Homo sapiens: one gene and its partner. The protein of the gene in region 2 purifies or fractionates together with the protein of the main gene of each other region. This does not show direct contact. Each region holds a gene or a part of one and is shown on either strand. Other genes may lie near its edges.

Region 1 (2,771 bases), on a different chromosome or scaffold from region 2:
TAGAGTGTGTAAACACTATACACTTGAATTACACTAAATTTATAAAAGAATTTCTTCCTCCAGTAAAAATTAACTTTAGCTTACTGTAAATTTTTAGGTTTATAGACTTTTACATTTTTAAACTTTTTGACTCTCTTAATTAACACCTAGCTTAAAGCACGAACACATTGTATAGCTGAACACAAATATTTTTTTCTTTACATCATTATTCTGTAGGCTTTTTTCTGTTTTAAATTTTTTTAAAAAACTTTTTTTGTTAAAAATTAAAACTAACACTAAAAAGTTTTTGTTAAACCAAGACAAATATCGCCTTCTACCTCCATATGTTGTCTCCCTCTAAGGGCTTCAGGGACAATAAAATGTATGGAGCTGACAGCTCCACATTATTGTGTGTGATTTTGGTGTCATATCAAAAAAATCATTGCCAATACCAGTGTGATGGAATTTTGATCATTTTAAAATGAAGTAGTTTGTCTTATTGAGTTTTAAGAATGCTTTATCTATTCTTCATTGTGAAAAATAGAATATTGGGAAATCGCTGTTTGGTTTGGTTTCTAGGATGACCATCTGTATGTAAGAAGTGAAATGAAGCACAGATGAGAAAAGTCTTAGTATTTAATCAACATTTATTTATTGTCAATTTTAATACAATCCGGTTGTTTGAATCCAAAGACTTGAAACAAATGTGTTACAGTCAAATTAAGGAACTATGTAGCAGTGACAGATACTCTTCCTTTTCATCTGGGCATGGATGATATTTTTTCAGGTGGAAACGTTATTGAACTACAGTAGTAGGTGGAAAGCATTGTATTTCCATGGAATAACTCCTCAATATATTTCCCAATATTGAGCAGCCTCTTAGAAATAGGGAGCAAGATCTTTCTGCTGAAAACAAGCTAAAGCCCACATTTGAATGTTTTTTTTTTTCCTGAAATGATAAATCCCTATTCTTTATGAAATAATGCTCTTGCTCACTGGCTTGGGAAAAGACCCTGATGCTACTTTTTTATGCCACTAATTAACTTACTGATTAAATATATACCCAAGAAAAAGGACTTGATGGTTTTGATAAGTAAAGACACTACCGCTGCTGCATCTTTGCTTTCAGAGCCTTCACCTTCTGCCACAATACCAAAAATTGGGACACACCAAACTTGGGGCACACTAAAAATTAGGGTACACTAATTGCTGTAAAACAAAGCTTTGTATCTAGGACTGGTAATGCATTTGTAATATTTTGCTTCTAAGAAATGTAAGGTTAGCTTTGGCACCATCTATAAATGAATGATGAGCTCTCAAAAAGACAACTCCAACTAAACCCAAAGCTCTTTAAAAGCTTTTCATTATTCCTCAAAGTTTAACCCTCATTCTAACAAGTTATTCCACTCAGTATTTTCTAACAAAGTAGCACAAATGCCTAACAGTCTTTGGAAGGAACCCCATAACAAGATATATGCTACAGTTTTAGGCTCTAAAGAAAGAGACAGAAATGCATTGATTCACTTTTAGAACGAATTTCATGATGGATTGCTTGTCTTTCATGATGAATTCATAGATGACTTTCCTATTTCTTAAATTGCTACTTGAGTAAATTGCATTTATGTTTATTATTCACTGATAAAAGTAGCACCTCTGCTCTTGGACATATTCATAGGGTGAAGTGCTACTAGGAAAACTGAGAAAATATGAGCCAGAACTTCCCCCATCATGGTTACTTCCTCCTTTGCAATAAGAATACCCATCTTGCCCTGAGCCACTTCCATGCTGACTATAACCAGAGGACTGTCCTGAGCCAGACCCATGTTGGCCGTAGCTGGAAGACTGCCCTGAACCAGACCCGTGTCGGCCGTGGCTAAGAGACTGGCCAGATCCAGCCCCATGTCGGCCATAGCCAGAAGACTGACTGGAGCCAGAGCCACGGTGGCCATAGCTGGAAGACTGGCCTGTGCTAGATCCCTCCTGGTCAAAGGTTGATGACTGTCCTGATGTAGAACCATGCTGTCCTTGGCTACAGAAGTGCCCTGAGCCACTACCATGCTGACTGTAAGCAGAGGAATGTCCTGAGCCAGACTCATGTTGACCAAAGACAGAAGAGTGACCCAAGCGAGACTCATATGGGCCACGGCTGGAAGAACGACCTGAGCCAGACCCATGTTGGCCGTGGCTGGAGGAGTGCCCCAAACCGGACCCATGTCGGCCGCGGCTAGGGGACTGGCCAGATCCAGACCCTTGTCGGCCGTGGCCCGAAGACTGACGGGAGCCAGACCCATGCTGACCATAGTGGGAAGACGAACCTGAGCTAGATCCGTGTCGTTCACCCCTAGATGACTGTCCTGATCTAGAGCCGTGTTGTCCGTAGCCAGAGGAGTGACCTGAGCCAGACCCATGCTGACTGTAACTAGAGGACTGCCCTGAGCTAGACTCGTGGTGACCAAAGCCAGAAGACTCGCCTAAGCCAGACCCATGTTGGCCACTGCTGGAAGACCGACCGGAGCCAGACCCATGTCGGCCGTAGCTGGGAGACTGCCTTGACCCAGACCCACGCTGGCCGTGGCCTGGAGACTGGCCAGATCCAGAGCCCTGTCGGCCATAGCCAGAAGACTGACTTGAGCCAGAGCCATGCTGACCGTGGCTGGAAGACTGACCTGAGCTAGCTCCATGTTGGCCACAGCTCGATGACTGTCCTGATGTAGAACCATGTTGCCCATGGGTAGAGGAATGACCTGAGCTAGATCCATGTTGACCGTAGCCAGAGGACTGTCCTGAGCGAG
Region 2 (3,653 bases):
ATCCTTTCCAAACAAATCTGACCGCTCTCTCCCCTGCTCAACACCCTTTCATGGCTCCCACTGACCACAGGGGAAGTCAGTCTCCTTTGCCTGGCATTCAAGGCCCTGCTCAGCTTTTCAGGCAATCCCTGCTAAGACCCCTCTCCTTCCACTCCACCGAACTCACCTCCACTCCTCTGTTTGACACATCTCCTTCCTCCTCCACCCTGCCTTTCATTTTCCTTCTGACTCAAACTTTTTTTTTTCTCTTGTGCTTGCTGAACACCCAGCCTCAATGTCACTACTTCCAGGAAGCACTCCTGGATTCATGCAAACGGGCTCTACTGTCCTTGCCCCAGGTGCCCTGTCCTTGCCCACTCTTATCATGCTGAGTGGATCATGCCATGTGCTCCTGCGGGCTAAGTTCTGGGCTCAGGTGTCTAGCATAAGGCCTGGCAGGGAGATGGTGACCGGAAGGGGACCCTGGTCAGCCTTGTTCACCGCTGGCCCCAGGGTCCAGCTGTTTGTTGACTGACTGCCTGACTGTTGAGCTCCTGCTTCAAAATGACTCAAGTATCCTTCACTGGCTGCGAATGTGAAGCCAAGTTTAGAGCTGGCCAAGGCTCTATGCTGGGGGAGGGGACCTCTCTTGCCGACTAGAAGCTCCTCCGCCTGGCGAGGAATGTGTCATCAGCCAGACCCAACAGGTACATCTCTGCAGCTGGAGTGTGCCCCCCGCCCCTGCTCAGACAGGGCCCCACCCTGGGATCTGGGCGAGGGGAAAGAGCAGGAGAGAGGGGGTGGTGGTGCTCAGCAGGGATGATGGCTGGGGGGCTGCCTGGCCAATCTTCCTGCCCCCTGGGGTGGGCAGCGCTGTGCTGCTCGCAGGCTGCACGGGAGTTTCTACTGCCCACAACAGCCAGCTATCTGGCCCCTTGGGACCTGGCACTAGGGGCATGGGCTCTGGGGACAGGACAGGATGTCCCCTCTCCCATCCAGGAGTCCTTTCTCCAGGTGGCAGGGCATGTGGTCCACCACTCTCAGAGCCACCTGGGGCTTTCTACACTGTTCCAAGACCTTAATCAACCACTGCCTGTTCAGCACACAGTCCAGTGACCGGCCACCTCCAGAAGCTCAAATCTTTCCTGCCAAAACTTACCTCCTCCTCTCTGGGCTGAGAGCTGGGGTTGAGGGTAGGGAGGCAAAGAGGGGCCTGGGTTTCTTGGGGGCAATTCAATTGTCCCCCACTGCCCGGCCCCCTCAGGGCCTGGCTAAGAACATGACGGGAAGGAATCTCACTGGCTGAGCCAATAAACCAGAGAGCCCTTTGGATGGACGGACAGACAAGCAGATGGGCAGCTGAATGTGTGGGGGCTGGGCGGTGGTGGTGGGCAGATCCTAATGGAAAGCGTGATGGGCTTGACAGCTAACCTGCGGCAATGAACGCCTAGGCACCTTCAGCTTGCCTGCACCGATCCCCACACTCACTCACTGGAGGAAGGCGCTGCCGTTAAGCCCATTTTTCTTTTCTTTCTTTCTCTTTCTGCCTTTTCTTTTCTTTCTTTTTTATTTTTATGTACTTATTTTTTGAGACAGGGTTTCCCTCTCGCCCAGGCTGGAGTGGAGTGGTGTGATCATAGCTCACTGCAGCCTCGACTTTCCAGGCTCAAGTGATCCCCCCACCTCAGCCTCCTGAGTAGCTAGGACTACAGGCACATGTCACCACGCCCAGCTACTTTTTTATATTTTATAGATACAAGGTTTCTCCATGTTGCCCAGGCTGGTCTTAAACTTCTGGGCTCAAGTGATCCTCTTGCCTCAGCCTCCCAAATGCTGGAATTACAGGCATGAGCCGCTCCATCCGGCCAAGCCCATGTTTCACATGGGAAATCTGCGGTTTAGAGAGGTTAAGGATTTTGCCCAATGTCACCCAGCCTGACTGACAGTGCGGGCACTGGGACTTGGCCTCTGCTGGCTGGGGTTGGGTATTTTGGGGGCATGGGGACCTCCTCACAGAGGGAGGAGCTCTGCCGACCCTGTGCTGGGGCCCTGGCAGGGGCTGGGGAAAGAGTCATCTCCATAGGGTTCACTTTTGGATACTTCTCAGCCCAACCCAGGCTGGCCTTGCCAGCGTCCCTTCCCCGCCCGAGGCCCACCCAGCGCCAGCGCCCGGTTCTCTTGCAGCGACTGGGCCCTAATGTCGCACGAGGGGCCTTCGCGAAGGCCAATGGTACTATCCCCTCAGCCCCTCTCCCACCCCCACCCCCTACCCCCTCAGGCTGTGGGGGGTCAGGGGTCGAGGCCCGCGCGGCGCGCACCTTCCAGGCGCATCCCCACCGTCAGGCATTTCTGGAAGCGGCAGAAGGGACAGCGCTTGCGCTGCGTCTTGTCGATCTTGCAGCTCTGGCTCTCGGTGCACGTGTAGTGCTTGTTGTTCTGCACCGTGCGCTTGAAGAAGCCCTGCGGGAGCTGAGAGTCAGCGAGGCCCCGCAGCGCCCGTCTGCCGCACCCCTGCCGCGCGCTCGCCGCTCACCTTGCAGCTCTCACACGTGAGCAGTCCGTAGTGGTAGCCGGACACCTTGTCCCCGCACACGGGGCACAGCTCGTCCAGGTCCTCGTCGTACGAATAGTCCATGCCCGCGGCGTCCGCCTGCGGAGGGACAGCGGGTCAGGGAGGGCCGGCGGAGACCGGCAGCCTGGGGTCCCCGCGGCCGCCGCCCCAGCCGCTGTCGCCGGCCCGTCGCGTAATCCCCTCTCTGTGCCCAGGCGCTGCCGCCGGCACCCACCGAGCGCCCCGCGCAGCGTCCCGGGGTGGGTCCGGTGCAGTCCCCGCGCCCGGCCTTCCCCTGCCAGGCCCCACGCTCCCGCCCCGTCCGGGGGGCTCCTCCCGCGCGGACCCCGTCGCGCCCGATCTGGGGCCCTCGGGTTCGATGCGCTTCGATTGGGATTCGTTTGTCTGAGAACAAAACCCCGATTCTGAGAAAAAGAGATGGGCTCAGCCGCGGGGAAGACGCCAGGGGACCCAGGAGCGCTGGGGCGCCCGGCCCGGGTGTTCTGGGAACCCGACAGAGACGAAGGAGGCAGAGACAGAGTCCGGGGGAGCCAGAGATGGGAAGAAACTCTGGCGAGAGACAACGACCGACGCCACCGGGCGCAGACACGAGGCCAGTCCGAGAGTGCCAGAGACACAGACACTGAGACGCCCAGCTAGAGAGAACCCGGCGGGGACGAGACACAGGGAGGGATGGAGAGAGACAGGGAGACAGAGAGAGAGAGAGAGAGAGAGAGAGACGAGAGAGAGAGAGAGAGAGAGAAACGAGGGGTGGGGGATTGGATCAGAGACTCGGAGAGACAGCGGAGGCCCGAAGAGAAAACCCAAGAGAGACTGACGCAGAGCCAGAGACACAACGATAGACGACAGACAGAGACGCCGAGACGAGAGGAGCCCCGGAGAGACGAGGCCGGGGAGCTACAGAAACACGGAGAGAAAACCTGGAGGCGGAAGCGCCCAGCCCGAGGGTCGGGGACAGGGGACGCGCGGAAACCTGCCGGGCAGGAGCCCAAGCGCCAAGGCGAGGCCCCGCAGGGTCGGACCCAGACGGGGGCCCGGGCCGCAGGAGGCGGAAAACGACGGCGCCGGGACCGAGAGCCCGAAAACGCAGAGCCGCCGGGAC

The links.
Region 1: the proteins of NR5A1 (region 2) and HRNR purify together in Homo sapiens (co-immunoprecipitation; one study listed by IntAct). This does not show direct contact.

Annotation. Positions count from the first base shown.
Region 1 is NC_000001.11:152,211,465-152,214,235, forward strand, and holds the end of HRNR (hornerin), read right to left. Parts: coding exon 1,612-2,771; 3' UTR 612-1,611; downstream 1-611. UniProt on the Homo sapiens protein: Component of the epidermal cornified cell envelopes.
Region 2 is NC_000009.12:124,500,782-124,504,434, forward strand, and holds part of NR5A1 (steroidogenic factor 1), read right to left. Parts: intron 2,630-3,653; 5' UTR 2,615-2,629; coding exon 2,513-2,614; intron 2,440-2,512; coding exon 2,298-2,439; intron 1-2,297. UniProt on the Homo sapiens protein: Transcriptional activator. Essential for sexual differentiation and formation of the primary steroidogenic tissues. Binds to the Ad4 site found in the promoter region of steroidogenic P450 genes such as CYP11A, CYP11B and CYP21B.